Regions from separate parts of the Homo sapiens genome. Here region 1 is linked to region 2. A link means that fine-mapping ties the variant in region 2 to the expression of a gene that starts in the linked region. Tissue or cell type: lung. Region 2 holds a variant in brackets; the other region holds the start of a gene. All regions are shown on one strand. Distances are between the middles of the regions.

Region 1 (8,084 bases), 550 kb before region 2:
TGTTCCAACTCTCCCCCACGCTATGCAGGCCCCTGTCCTTGTGCACTTGAGCTTGGAGGAGCCAACAGAGTCTTGGTCTCTGCAGGCAGGATGACTCCAGGGACACCCAGCAAAGAGCAGGCTCACTCCCACTCCCAGTCAGAGAAGCGTCCCCTAGAAGATGGGCGGGGACCGGAAGGGACCGGGCCTTGACTGATTGATGTTCCACCTCCTAGAAGGAGACAGTTCGGCAGGACTGGGTGCTCCCACTAAAGATCCCAGGCGCCTGCCCTTCACTCGTCACTTCTACGTCCCTTGGAGGGTGGCCAGGTTCTCTATTCTCATGCCCCAGTGGCACTGTTCCTGTAGCTGCCTCCTGCCCTGAAACTCTCTGGTCCATGATGCCAATGACCTCATCTCAGGTACAGACCTCTGGTTCTCACATGGGGGTCCCAGGTTGAAGAATCACCCCCCACCATGTTACCAGTAGAGGGTCTTGACTGCAAGTTGTCCAGGTTCTTGGCGTTTTGAACAAAGAATTGGACAAAGCGCACAGCAAAGCAAGAAAAGAATGAAGCAACAAAAGAACGAAAGCAGGGATTTATTGAAAATAGAAGTACACTCCACAGTGTGGGAGCAGGCCCAAGCAGTATTCAACGGTCCCGCATACAGAATCTTCTCTGGTCCAAATACCCCCTGGAGGTTTCCCATTGACCACTTGGTGCTCACCTCATGTAAATGAAGTGGCGGCCTGCAATCAGTCTGATTGGTTGAGGAAAGCAACCAACCAGAGGCTGAAGTGAAGTTACAAAGGTCACACTCCTGTGCAAACATCTCATTGGTTGCAGAAAGCAACCAATCAGAGGCTAAAGTGAAATTACAAAGTTGTACTTCTATGCAAAGGAAGACTTGGCCTGCAATCAGTCTGATTGGTTGCAGACAGCAACCCATCAGAGGCTGAAGTAAAGTTACAAAGTTACACTCCTATGCAAAAAACAACTATACACAGGTACTTTCCATTTCCCATTGCCCCACAGAAAAGGTGGGGGTTTGCAAAGGGAGTAGCCTCTGGACCTTTTGTTACTTAGGCATGGAAAGTTAGGGTTTTCCTTTCAATTTAGTTCTAGGAAGTTAGCATGAAATGGCCTTAGGTTCCCTGCCTCCAGACCCTATTCTCCTGCCTCACCCACACCACTGAAGTCTGAACTGAAGCTGCTCTTGGTGAAATGTAAGAGGCCCATCATCTGGCTGGGTGCCCTGCCTGTGGTCCTTCCTCAATCACTGCCTCCCCTGCTTTTGAGTTTTCCAGGCTCCAGTAACTGGAACTACTTCTTGACAACAGAAATATTCCCTATTGCCTGTGCTCCTTGCAGCCATGGAAAATGCCCCAGGAGTTCCATTATTTCCTTCTAAACAGTCCAGCAGGATTTTTAGCTCACATGTCTTCTTAATGTGGTCCCGTCCCTTTCCCAACCCCAGTGTGTCTGACATTGTTTTCTGGATCAGAGAAACTTTGCTTTCTTCACAGAGGCCTACAGATTCTCCATATACCAGCGGAGCATGGTGCATGCTCATCTGTCTCCAACCTCATCTGATGAGAACATCTCCTTCCCTGCTGCCAGGAGGTGCCCCAGCATGGGCATGTCTGCCCGTGAAGTTCAACCCGTAAGGAATTCCCTGCCAGCCTGTGGCTCATTGGTCTGGAATTCCAGGTGCTGCTCTTAGTAGCCCCTAAGCACATCCAGGGAAAAGCTGGCACGTTTATGTCAGTGCCACTCAATGGCCTGAGCCTGCCTGCTGCCCAGAGGCAGCGAGAGGGGAGAACGTGAACCACACCAAAGCATACTGTGTGGTCCATGCCAGGACTTCTTGGGACCAATGTGCCTCATGGAGACTGGGATCAAAGGACAGCTGTGCCCAAAAGAGGCTCAGCTTACCAGCCCTTCAGCCCCATAAAGTCGGGGAGTCATGGGGGGTAGGAAGAATGAGAGAAAGAGAGAGAGACCTACAGGTGAGAGAAAGAGAGAGAGACCTACAGGTGTGCAGTGCCTGATAGAAACAGTGACCTTCGCCCACCGGCAAAGCTGTCCTCACCAATGTCCTGGTGCCTGGTCATTCACTCATGGGGAAAAGAAGAGCAGAAGTAGAGTGAGGGTAGAAAGCCCCTTCCCCCACATTTTCAAATGTACCTGGACAAGCATCCTTATTCACAGCTGGAAGAAGTTGGATTCAGTAGAATGCCATTTGGAAAACACCGTTCTGAAGTGCCATCCCCTCTGGCCCCTGAATCCTCACCAGCTTCCACCCTCTGCTCACCTTGGGCCCTGGATTCCAGCGCCCCCAGGCTCCCAGCTGCCTCCCTGTCTCTGCCCCATGGTCCGGCCTGGAGTTCTGGTCCCTGGTTGTGTCCTGTGGCCCCATTCTCATGCGCCCTTTGCTTCTGTTTCTTTACCTATGACTTTATACTGATGTAAAGCGAGTCTTCTCGGTCGCTTCTTGTTCTCTGAGGAATGATGAATCAGAATCTAAATGGAAAATCTGGGCAGAGATAGAACCTCCCGCGGGAGCCACCCTGCCCTTCCATGTCTAGATCATCTGGGTTCCAACCTCCATCCTCCTCCAATGAGAAGCTTTTGTTCTCTCAAGATTCCAGTGACTTCTCCGAAGCTTAGGTGTCTCTTCACCCCTGGCTGTTCCAAGGCGGCCCCATAGTCAAGATTCCTTAAACCCTTGCCCCTTAAAATGTTTGCCTTTCTTACCATGCTGGCTCCAGCCTCTGGTCCCAGGGGTGTGGAGAGTTCTCTCTTACTTCTGGCTGATTTCCAGGAAGGCTAAGCACACTCTCCCCAGGTTATAATGCTGAGCATTTTGGTTCTCTCCAGCCCTGGGTCCCAATGTCAGGACCTACCTTAGTCCAGTCCATGCTCTCCCATGGGCCTGAGAGAAGATTTGAGGTTTCTGGCTTTCCCTCCAACCCTCCAACTCCCACCCCAAGCCATGTCAGCAAGGGGAAGGGGCAAACATGGAGTTTCCCCCCCAACTCCCATGTAAACTATGCCCCCTCTTAGAGGGCAGAGCAGCTAAGGACAATTTTGTTTCAAGGACATTTTTTTTGGCTGTGTATTGCACAAACAAGTGGACACCCGGGAGCTGGCCCTGCTCGTCCCCTGGGCCCTCCTTCCCTGGTCCTGCAGGTCTTGCTGCTTGTCAGGCCTCTCCTCCAACCCTCTGCCACATTTCAGAAAAGCTGAGAATCCCTTGGAGTGAAAAAGGAGGAGAAACACAGTGTCCGTAGCCCAGAAGGAGGTTAAATACTTTCACTTCTCTTTTCCCCATTTGGGCGGAGCCCTTTCTGAGTCAGTCTGTCGGCCGACTTCCTGCTTGGGGCCTGGGCAGCCACACTGCACGCAGGCTGGGCCGACTGAGGGGCTCAGAGGCCAGGCTCTGAGGCCCACGCAGGGCCTAGGGTGGGAAGATGGCAGGTGGGGGCGGCGACCTGAGCACCAGGTGAGTCTTTATCTCCCTTCCTTTAACCTTTATCTCTGGCTATATTGCAGCTTTCATGCCTTTAGTTCAGTTTGTGCCTAAGGCTTCACTTTAATCCTTCTTTGCAAGAACATAGGTATGCGATGTTATATAATGAAATGAAAGACAAGTAATGAGGAAATCAGATTTTTTAAACAGGAGCAGGACAGCTGTTGGTGTGAGTTCAACTTGCCATAACACACGTGACTTTCTTGTTTTGGATTTACTGCTCAGCTGACCGGGACACTCTAAACATAGCAGTTGTTGGTGGCTGGGATTAACTATTTCCTCATGATCTGTGAACCCTTTCACCCCTCAGCCTTCCTCTACCTTCAAATATGTCATGTCAAAAAAGGTGCTTTAGAAAATAAACACTCCAGGGTAAACACCTGGCTTACTTTTAAACATCAGACGCTGTGGTCTCACCTGTCCTGGCAAGGGGCCTCTGCCGGCTGTTCCCATGACTGGCTCAGGGTCTGAGTTCTTATTCCATCAACCTTGATCAAAAGAAGGAAAGGGAAGAAAAAGGCCCAGGGTGACAAACGGCTAAATATTTTCATTTTTACCTCAATTTCCTGTCCCAAGATGGGGGATACCTCTGACCAGAAAAGAGAAGGAAATCCTAACTTTTCTCTAGTAGTGAGTTGAGAAATAACATTACTTAATCTTTTAAATTTTTTAATACAAAAGAAATACACTGTACATTATTGTTCATAAAATTTAAAACAGTGGAGAAGTATATTAAGGAAAAAGTCATCTTTGCCACTCAGCCATTCTTGTAGCTTCTCTTCCCAGTCCTGTGAAGAGTCTTGGGCACAGCTTTTCTTATATTTTTCTATGCATTTATATATCTAATGCATTTTTTGTAAATACGTAATTTATGTTCTTGATTTATAATAAATTATATTACATGTGCTAGTCTGCATTTTGCATTTTTACTTATTTTAATAGTGGAAAACTTAGAGATCTTTTAACCTTAATACATATAGATCTGCCTCATTCTTTTTATACATGCTATTCCATAGAATTGATATATGATAATTATTTATTCTCCAATTGAAGGACATTTAGATTGTTTTTAAATTGTTCACATTTACCAATAAGCTATCATAACAATGATTATATATTTCTTTTTGGGTTTTTACATCTAAACAAATATTTATCTTGTCTCTAAACCTTAAAAATGTAATTATTGAGGCAAAGGGTCCAGTTATTTACTTGGTCCTGCCAAATTGTCTTTCTAGGAGGCTGAATGAATGTATTTCACCAGTAGCAAATGAGATGAACCATCTTCCTGCACACAGCCACGATTTGCAAAGGTGATGAATGAAGAGTTATGTCTTGTTTTAATTTGTATTTTCCTTACGATGGGAAAATTGATCAGCTTTTCATGTTTCTTGGCCATTTAAATTCCCTCTTCTATAAATTGCTTGTTTGTTTTTTGCCAATATGATTCCGTTGAGGTGTTTGTCCTTTTTTTCGTGATATGGGAGAATTCACTAAATATTCTGTAAGTATAAATATACTTTTCTTGTCCATTACCTTTGTCTATGGTGACTTTTATCTTATTAAAGCTTAAAACTTAACATATAGGCCTCTTGTGATACAGATTTTTTTAAGATAGATGCACCCTTGTTATAAACGAGGTGATGCTGACACCCTCTGTGAGCACTCTTAGTTTTTACAATTATTTCTGTGTTAAGGTGGCAGATTCGCTGCTACCGCTATTCCAGGAAGAGTTCCTCCTCTAATATCTCTGAAAATTTTTTAAATTTTTAAACAAAAATATTCTTACATTGGAGCCACTTTAGCCTTCACAGCTTTTATTTGCCCCGTTTTCATCTTTTCAGTCTTTCACTTTGTGTTCATAATAGTTGTCTCAAACTTTTCCTCCATGACAATTATTTACCTTCTAGTAGGTTTCTTGTTTCTTGTCATTTCTAATTTTTTAAAAATTGATAGTGTTTATTTTTGAGGAGGGATCTTAATTGGTTTCTGTACGCCTGCAAGCTCCATAACCTCTTGTCATTCAGTCTTCACAGTCTTGCTTTATTTAGGTTTGCCTGTGCTGTTAAGAACTTTGGGATATTCTCCTTGTTGTCTCTTAGTTATTTTTCCAGACTGATTCTGTCTGATCTTGTGTTCCACGTGCCTGTGGTGGCTTTACAGCTCCTCTAGCCAGGCTTGGCCAGGGCAGGTCACCCCAAACTTCCCGTTTGCTTAGTCATAATCTGGATGAACTTTTTTTCTTTTTTTTTTTAACATTCCCTGTTTTATCTGAGATCAAATTGTTTTTTGTCTGAGCTACAGTTTGAAGTCTTTGTTTTGATTCTTATCAATTTTTCTGAGTTCACCGTTGATTGATTAAATTATCCTTTTCCCTGCTGATTCGCAGTGCTACCCTTTTTGGGAGTATAGAGGCAGGGTGTGCTTCTGTGTTCTCTCTTCTCTCCCCTTGGCCGGTGACAGCCCCTCCTTATGCCAGTACCACGCTGCCATAGTGATGGCAGCTTCCCAGGAACTCTTGACATCTGAGGGAGCAAATCTCTTCCTCTTCCTCCAGAATGTCTTAGACTCCCAAATTTGCCTGTCAAAATCTCGAGATTTTGTGTGGAACTGCACTGGATCTATAAATCAATTTGAAGAGAATGGACATCTTTACATTCACGAGACTTCCATCTCATGAATATGGTTTATGTATATTATTACTTTAAAAATGTCTCCTATTAAAATTTGTATTTTTCTCTCTGAAGGTTTTGCCCTTCTGCTAGATTCCTTCATAGATATTTGATATTTTTATGCCATTATTAACTAAAGTAGTCCTCCCTTATCAACAGTTTTACTTTCTGAGATTTCAGTTACTTGCAGTAAAACTTGGTCCAAAAACATTAAATGCAAAATTCCAGAAAACAATTCATGAGTTTTAAGATACTTGGCGTTCTGAGGAGTGTGATGAAATCTCATGCTGTCCCTCTCCATCCTGCCCAGGATGTGAACCATCCCTTTATCCAGGGTATCCACAGTGTAGACACTACCAGCCCATGAGTCGCTGAGTAGCTGTCCTGGTGATCAGATCGACTGTCCTGGTATAACAGAGCTTGTGTTCAAGGAACCCTTATTTTAGTCAATAATGGCCCCAAAGCACAAGAAGGTTGATGCTGGCAATTCAGATATGCCAAAGAGAAGCCGTCAAGGGCTTCCTTTAGGTGAAAATGTGAAATTTCCTGAAAGAAAAAAATAATATGCTGAGGTTGTTAATATCTACAGTATGATGTTTTGAGAGACAAAAAGAGACCACATTTACATAATTTTTATTACACTACATTGTTATAGTTGATCTACTTTATTATTAGATATTGTTATTCATCTTTTATTGTGCCTAATTTATGTACAGATTGGGGAAAACATAGTATATGCAGAGTTTGGTACTATCTGCGGTTTCAAGCATCCACTGGGGTTCTTGGAAGCATCCCCTGTGGATAGAAGGGAACTAGTGTGCTAAATTTTACATATGAATTTGCGTTGGTGACCCATGATCTGATCCATGGTTCTATTTTCATTCTTGTTTCAATACTGAAATGTTTTAGTTACTATGATTTTATAGGTAGTGTTCTGTAACCTACCTTACTGGGATTGAATTGAGAGACACTAAATGAACAGATAAATTTAGGAAGAATTTATGTTTTAAAAAAATCCTGAATGGCCCCAGTGAGAAACATAGTAAATCTCTCCATTTATTCATGATTGTTTGAACTTGGGACCTTGTTGGGTCGCTTTAGTTCTAGGCATTTTAAAATTGTATTTGTAAACAGGAATTCATTTTCCTTTTACATTTTCTAGTTATTTCTTGCTGGCATAAGGGAAATCTATTCATTTTAGTTAGCTGATCTTGTGCATAGGAGTCTTACTAAGTGGTCTTCTCCCTCTTAATATTGTCTTGTGTTTTTCTGGAGAAATAATTACATCTTCAAAGATAGTAGCAGCTTTGTCTCCTCTTTTTCAGAATTTATACCTGTATACTTTTCTTTTTCTTTCTTTTTTCTTTCTCTTTTGCCTTAGCGCATTAGCCAGGACTGCCAGTGTAATACTGAATAGTAACAGTAAAAATGAACATTTTAGTTTTATTCCTGATTTCAAGGGGAATACTTATAATGTTTAAATTGAGGCTTTCTTATAGACACCTTTTTTCAAGTTAAGGACATTTCCTGCTGGCTCTGGTTTACTAAAAGTTATTTATTTTAATCAGGCCTGTGTATAGGATATTTATCAAAATGCCTACTAAAGAATCTTTGAGAATTGTATCATTTTTCTCTTTTAATCTGATTTATCCACAGTAAATTATATTGAAACATTTTATTAATTCGGTTATTAATTTCACCAAAGTAAAACATATATATATATATAGCTTAAAGTATCAGTCAATAAGACCTTTAAAAACACAAGTAGTACTTTCTGCCATCTTCCCAGCCCATGTCCAGTTTCCCTAATGGATTAACTTTTTGGCTCTTACTTTTGTATTTACTTCTGTATTTTGAAATGATGTGCTGATACAGCTCTTTGTAATTTTTCAAGTTTCAGAC
Region 2 (8,104 bases):
AGCTGATTGGTCCGTTTTGACAGCATGCTGATTGGTGCATTTACAATGCCTGAGCTAGACAGAAAAATTCTCCAAGTCCCCACTAGATTAGCTAGACATAGAGCACTGCTTGGTGCATTTACAAACCTTGAGCTAGACACAGGGTGCTGATTGGTATGTTTACAAACCTTGAGCTAGACACAGAGTGCTGATTGGTGTATTTACAATCCCTTAGCTGGACATAAATGTCCCCACTAGATTAGCTAGATACAGAGTGCTGATTGGTGCATTTACAAACCCTGAGCTAGACACAGGGTGCTGATTGGTGTGTTTACAAACCTTGAGCTAGATACAGAGTGCTGATTGGTGTATTTACAATCCCTTAGCTAGACATAAAGGTTCTCCAAGTCCCCACTAAACCCAGGAGCCCAGCTGGCTTCACCTAGTGGATCCTGCATCAAGGCCACAGGCGGAGTTGCCCGCCAGTCCCACCGTGCACCCGCACTCCTCAGCACCTTGGGCGGTGATGGGACCCAGAGCCACGGAGGCTCGGGCGGAGCAGGAGCCCACGGAGGTGGGGAGGCTCGGGCATGGCAGGCTGCAGGTCCTGAGTCCTGCCCTGCGGGGAGGCAGCTGAGGACCCGCGAGAATTCGAGTGCAACGTGGGCGGGCCGGCACTGCTGGGGGACCCAGCGCACTCTCTGTGGCTACTGGCCCAGGTGCTAAGCTCGTCACTGCCCAGGACTGGTGGTGGCGGCCGGCCGCTCCTACTGCAGGGCTGCCAAGCCCACACCCACCCGGAACTCGCGCTGGTCCGCCAGCACCCCGTGCAGCCCCGGTTCCCACCCGCGTCTCTCCTTCCGCGCCTCTCCCTCCACACCTCCCCGCAAGCAGAGGGAGCCGGCTCTGGCCTCAGCCAGCCCAAAGAGGGGCTCCCACACAGTGCAGCGGGAGGCCGAAGGGCTCCTCAAGCGCGGCCAGAGTGGGCGCAGAGGCCAAGGAGGCGCCGAGAGCGAGCGAGGGCTGCCAGCACGCTGTCACCTCTCAATATGATTGTTTTGAAATGATTATCCTTGGCTACAAGAGTCAGTAACAAAGGTGATGCCTGTCCAAGGTTGAACATTTAGCTTTGCTGGGCAGATTTCCTTGCGGAAGTATTTTTTTGTGTAAGGTTACAATGGCTTTTGTGCAAGGTTTTGGTTTTTACAGAGCCTTTTGTGATAGTTTTGTTATCACACCAGTCACACAAAGACAAATACTGTATGATTTCACTTCTCCAATGTCCTAGAGTAGTCAAATTCACAGAGATGAAAAGTATAATTAGTTTTTGTTTCATGGCTATAGAATTTCAGTTTTCCCAGGTGAAAGAGTTCTGAGGCACTCTAGTATGGATCGGTCTCCCAGATGAACTCATCGTGGGTGGTGGTGATGGATGCACAACAATATGACTGCCACTAAACTATACACTTAAAAATAGTTAAGATGGTAATTTTTACGTTATTTATATTTCACCACAAAAAGAATGTCTAACTTTTAAAAAGTAAATAAATGAAAGAAGTAATGGGATGCATCGTACCATACAAACTCTAATCAAAGAAAGGTGGGGCAACTGTATTAATTGCAGATAAAGCAGACTTCAGAACAAGGAAAATTATAAGGGAGAAAGAGGAACATTACATAGTGATAAAGGGATCAATTCCCCAAGAAAATAGAATAATTCTTAACATATATGTACCTAACAATGTCAAAATATGTAAGGCAAAAACTAGTAGAATTGCAAGGCAAATTAAAATATCCATTCTTATAGTTGGATACCTCAACATAAGAGATCAGTAGCTGACATATCCAATAAGGATATAGCTGAACTGAACAGCAGCATCAATCAACAGGACATAATAGACATTTATAAACAAATTCATCCAACAACAGTAGAATACACATTCTTCTCATGCTTACCAGAAATATTTACCACAATAGACCACATTCTGTGCCATATATGGAACATAAACATGTTTAAAAGAATTGAAGATGCAAAAATCCTCAATGAAATGGTAACAAATCTTTCAATAATGTCAGATTTGTCCAACACTGAGATTTATTTCAAGTATGCAAATCTGACTCACATTCTTAAATCAATTTACATAATTCATCACATCAACAGGCTCAAAAAGAAAAATCATATGATCACATCAATAAATGGAGAAAAAGCATCTGACAAAATTCAATACCCATTCATGATAAAAATACAACCCAAAATCTTCAGCAAACTAGGAATAGAGAAGAACTCCCTCAACCTGATGAGGAACAGCTACAAAAAACCCCTACATTTAACGTTAGACTTAATGGTGTAAAACTAGATGTTTTACCGTAAAATCATGAACAAGTCAAGGATGTTCTCTCTCACCAGTCCTTTCTATATCATACTGGAATTCCCAGCTAATACACTGCATTGTAAGGCAGTTTCATTGTGTGAACATTGTAGGGTTCCTACAATGGCATAGCCTACTGCACACCTGGGCTATACGTGTTAGCCTACATGGCATAGCCTACTGCACACCTGGGCTATATGGGTTAGCCTGTTGCTCCTAGGCCACAAGCCTGTGCAGCATGTTTCTGTACTGAATACTGTAGGCAATCGCAACACAATGGTGTATCTAAACATAGAAAAATATCGTTCAAAATATGGTAGGAAAAATAAAAATATGGTACACCTGTGTAAGGCGCTTACCATGAATGGAGCTTGCAGGACTGGAGGTTGCTCTGGGTGAGTCAGTGAGTGGTTGGTGAGTGAACGGTAAGGCCTGGGACATTACCGACCACTGCTGTAGACTTTGTAAACACTGTACATTTAGGCTACACCACGTTTATGAAAAATTTGTTCTTTCCTCAAGAATAACATAACCTTAGCTTACTGTACTTTTTTTATTTTACAAACTTTTCAATTTTTAAAAACATTTGGACTTTTTTATAATAATACTTAGCATAAAACACCAACATATAGAGCTGCACAAAATATTTTCTTTGTACCCTTATTCTATGAGCTTTTTTTTTTCTTTTTTTCTTCTCTTTTTTGAGGTGGAGTCTCCCTCTTGTCGCCCAAGCTGGAGTGCAATGGTGTGTCTTGGCTCACTGCAACCTCTGCCTCTTGGGTTCAAGCCATTCTCCTGCCTCAGCCCCCCAAGTAGCTGAGATTACAGGCATATGCCACCACGCCCAGCTAATTTTTGTATTTTTAGTAGAGACGGGGTTTCACCATGTTGGCCAGGCTGTTCTCAAACTCCTGACCTCAGGTGATCTGCCTGCCTCGGCCTCCCAAAGTGCTGGGATTACAGGCATGAGCAACTGTGCCTGGCCAAAAATAAAGTCTTTCTGTAAAGCCACCATAAGCAGTCAAAAGATAAATGCCAAACTGAAAGAAAAAAAAAAAACTTTTCACCACTTATATACAAGCAAATCAGTGAGAAAATGCTAACAACCCAATAGAAAGGGGGCAAGGAGGACATGAACAGACAGACGGTTCACAAAAAAAGAAATACAGTGATTTTTAAACAATAGAAAATTGCTCAACCAATGTCACTCTTTCTCTCTCTTTCTTTCTTTCTTTCTTCCTCCCCTCCCCTCCCCTCCCCTCCCCTTCCTTTCTTTCTCTCTCTTTCGGCAGGGTCTTGATCTGTTGCCCAAGCTGAAGTGCTGTGGTGCCATCACAGCTCACTGCAGCCTCTACTTCTTGAGAGGCTCAGGTGATCCTCCCGCCTCAGCCTCCTGAGTTGCTGGGACTAAAAGTGAGTGCCCCCATGCCCGGCTAATTTTTGTGTGTTTTGCAGAGATAGGGTTTCACCATGTTGCCCAGGCTGATCTCAAACTCCTGAGCTCAAGAAATCTGCCTGCCGTGGCCTTCCAAAGTGTTACGATTACAGGCGTGAGCCACCATGCCCGGCCTCAGTGTCACTCTTAATAAGAAACATACAGGATTAAAAGTACACTGAGGTACCAGTTTCATCTTATCAGATTGGCACCCATTCAAAAGCTTGACAGCACATGATGTGAGTAAAGTGGGAAATGGCACTCTCAAGAATCATCGGTGGAAATGTAAATGGGTACAATCCTAGTGGGGGAAATTTTGGTAATATTAATCAAGATTATAGCTGTGCAGGCCCTTTGACCCTACAGTTCTACACGAAGAATGCATCCTGGAGATATACTCACGTGTGGAATAACAAATCCACAGTTATTTACTGCAACATTGTTGATAACAAAAAGAGCAGAAACCACTCAATTGTCCATCATTAAGAGATTGGTTAAAAAACGATGGGACAGCCACGTAACGGAATACCATGCAGCTGCAAGGAAGAAAAAGGAAATGCTTTATGACCAAATGTAGGACAAGCTCCAAAATATATTGTGGAAAGAAAGCACAGAGAAATGTGTATGGTACACTATTGTTTATGTAAAGAAAGAAAGAAACCAAGGCCTTATTTATCCTTATTTGCTTGTAGAGGTACTGTACGGACAATCTCTAAAAAAAAATCTTTGCAAGGACACATAAGAAGCTGGAAGCCCGGTTGCCTTCAGGGAAAAAGAAAACAGGAACCCTGAGGACAGAATGGGAGGGATACCTATTTTGAATGGTATACCTTTTTCAGGTCTTTTGGATTTTGTACTGTTGGGTCTGTGGTAGTTCTTTTGTTTGTTTTTGGGGCGTTTCAGCAGTCTCCCAGGCTGGAGTGCCGTGATGCAATTATGGCTCACTGTAGCCTCGACCTCCCAGGCTCAAGCAATCCTCCCACCTCAGCCTCCCAAGTAGCTGAGACTACAGGCACATGCCACCTATCCTGGCTTTTTTTTTTTTTTTTTTTTAGAGACGGGGTCTCACTATGTTGCCCAGGCTGGTCTCAAACTCCTGGACTCAAGGGATCTGCCTGCCTCAGCCTCCCAAAGTGCTGAGGTTACGGGCGTGAGCCGCTGTGCCTGGCCTATGTTGGCTCTTTTCTCCTCTGCAATCTGGGGACACAGGCCAGACCCTGAATGAGGCTGCAGCTGCTGCAGCACTCTGACAAAAAGAGAAATCCTCACGGATGATGATGGTGGCCTTAGGGCACCTGT[C/T]AGCACAAAAGTGCTTTTCATAAGCACTAGTCATCTTCTCTGGTTTATAAGACAGGGAGTCGCAAGAGGGAGAAGATGGCTCCCATGGTGTGGGAGAGAGAAACTAAATCAAATAGGCCCACGGGTCCACCCACGCCCACTCACGACCTGGAGAGCCTGCAGTGGTCCATGCTCTACCACCCAAGGGGTAAAGCTCAAACGCCTCTGCCCGGCATCCTGAGACCCAGCTCCCAAGCAGCTTTCTGGTGCTCCCTTCCTCTGTTCTTCAGGTGGGCTGCACAGAGCCTACACCACTTTTCAACTTAGCCTCAGCATTCAGGGAAGTCTGCTTTTCAGCTCCACCTTCTGCCTTGGGAAGGCCCGAGAGCCGACTGGCCACTTTGAGGCAGGAGACTAGGGTCTGGAGGCAGGAAACCTAAGGCTGATTCACGCTGACTTCCTAGAACCAAATTGAAAGGAAAACCCCAACTTTCCATACCTAAGTAGCAAAAGGACCAGGGGCGACTCCCTTTGAAAACCACCCACCCGTTTCTGCTGGAAAACTGAAAGTACCTCTGATTGGTTGCTTCCTGCAACCGATCAGATATTTGCATAGGAGTGTAACTTTGTAACTTCACTTCAGTCTCTGATGAGTTGCTTTCTGCAACCAATCAGATTGATTTCGGGCCACTACTTTATTTGCATGGGGTGAACACCATGTGGCCAATGGGAAACCTCTAGGGGGTATTCGGACCCCAGAAGATTCTGCAACTGGGCTCTTGAGTCCCTATGCTCGGGGCGCTCCCACCCTATGGAGTGTGCTTTCATTTTCAATAAATCTCTGCTTTTGTTGCTTCATTCTTTCCTTGCTTTGTTTGTGGGTTTTGTCCAACTCTTTGTTCAAAATGCCAAGAACCTGGACACCCTCCACTGGTAACAGCTTCACTGCCTTGAAGTCCATCAGGGACCAGGTGGCCACAGAAATGATCATGATATGGAGCCTGCATATCATCTGGAGTTACTCCAGCAAGGCAGGCCATTCCAATTCGGTGGTAAGGCTGCATATTCACTTTGAATTATAGTTGAGCATGTGAGATGTAACGAGGAGTGAGAAAATATTATGTGCTTTAGGTTTTGAAGTTCTATCAGTCCATTGAAGTATAAATGCACCATTATTATTGCTGGAGCAAAATGTGCCAATAATTAGTGATGATTGTGAAAGGTATTTACTTTATGTACCAAAACAGTTATTAAGAGCTTCTCAACAGATAAATAGGGAAGTAGATTGATGGTTAAGATAATGTGTTAACTAGATAACTTTAAGAAGAACAATAGCACCTCTAGTACCAGCTACTCAGGAGACTGAGGTGGGAGGTTTTCTTGAGCCCAGGAAGTCAAGGCTGCAGTGAGCCAAGGTTGCGCTACTGCACTCCAGCCTGGATGACAGAGAAAGACCCTGTCTCACAAAAAAAAAAAAAAAGAAAAGAAAAAAAAGAGCAATGTATCACCTATGATGCAACACAATATAAAGATTTAAATGAGACTGTTAAGTATGATGACAGACATTAGACTTTATGACATCTAATCCTTATAAAAATTATTTGGTGTACTTGCATTTGTAATATTAAGCTAAATAAACTTTAGGATGGCTATTTAATTCTTAGTTACACAATTCAGTTATACATTTGGACCATAAGTCATTCCAGTAAGAGCCCAGTTTGGGAATTATTTTGTCGTTGTTGTTGTTGTTTTTGCTTTTGTTGTTGTTTGAGACAGGGTCTTGCTCTGTCACCCAGGCTGCAGTGCAATGGCATGATCATGGCTCACTGCAGCTTTGACTTCCTGGGCTCAAGCGATCCTCCCATCTCAGCCTCCTGAGTAGCTGGGACTACAGGTGCACACCACCATGACTGGCTAATTTTAAAATTTTTTGTAGAGATGAGATCTCACTATGTTGCCCAGGCTGGTCTTGAACTCCTGGGCTCAAGCAATCCTCCCATCTCGGCCTTCCAAAATGTTGGGATTACAGTCATGAGCCACCATGCCCAGCCTGGGAATTCTTTATATCTCAAACTTTTACAAGGAAGAAAAGTTTCAAAATCATGTAAAAAAAAAATCCGTGATGATATCTGATAAGGAATTAATATCCAGAACATATAGAGAACTCCTAAAACTTAAAAACAACAACAAAAACAAACAACACAATACAAAAATGAACAAAGAACTTGAATAGATATGTCTCTAGAGAAGAATGGCTGGCCAGGCATGGTGGCTCATGCCTGTAATCCTAACACTTTGAGAGGCCAAGGTGGGAGGATCACTTGCAGCCAGGAGTTCAAGACCAGCCTGAACAACATGGTGAAACCCCATCTCTATAAACAATTTGAAAATTAAAAAAATTAGCTCGGTGTAGTGGCACATAGCTATACTTCCAGCTACTCAGGAGACTAGGCAGGAGGATCACTTGAGGCCAAGATTTTGAGGCTGCAGTGAGCTATGATGGTGCCATGCACTTCAGCACATCACTAATTAGAGAAATTCAGATCAAAACCACGAGATGCCACTTCATACCCACTAGAATGGCTATTATAAGAAAGAAAGAGAGGATATTGAAGAATTGGAATCCTTGTACTGATAGGAATGTAAAGTGGTGCTGCCACTACTGGAAACAGAATGGCATTTTCTCAAAAAATTCAAAATAGAGGCCAGGCGCGGTGGCTCACACCTGTAATCCCAGCACTTTGAGAGGCCGAGGTGCATAGATCATGAGGTCAGGAGTTCAAGACCTGCCTGGCCAAGACGGTGAAACCCTAAAAATAAAATAATTATTTTTTATTAATTATTTAGTTAATTAATTAACTAAAAATACAAAAATTAGCTGGGCGCAGTGGCAGGCACCTATAATCCCAGCTACTCGGAAGGCTGAGGCAGGAGAATCGCTTGAACCTGGGAAACGGAGGTTGCAGTGAGCCAAGATCGCACCACTACACTCCAGCCTGGGCAACAGAGTGAGACTCCATCTCAAAAATAATAATAATAAATA

What was found. PIP is the estimated chance that this variant, and not a neighbour inherited with it, causes the effect.
Region 1: it holds the start of SP100, and the variant in region 2 is fine-mapped to the expression of SP100 in lung (TOPMed, PIP 0.97).

What each region holds. Positions count from the first base shown.
Region 1 is chr2:230,412,843-230,420,926 of GRCh38, forward strand. It overlaps SP100 (SP100 nuclear antigen), which reads left to right and starts at 3,359. Exons shown (of 29, transcript NM_001080391.2): 1 at 3,359-3,486; 2 at 4,749-4,823. The coding sequence starts at 3,455. RefSeq lists an enhancer at 3,006-3,525.
Region 2 is chr2:230,963,782-230,971,885 of GRCh38, forward strand. No RefSeq gene overlaps it. Among named protein-coding and RNA genes, the nearest start is that of SPATA3-AS1, 28 kb to the right of the region's middle. The variant C/T (reference allele first, on the strand shown) is at 5,083.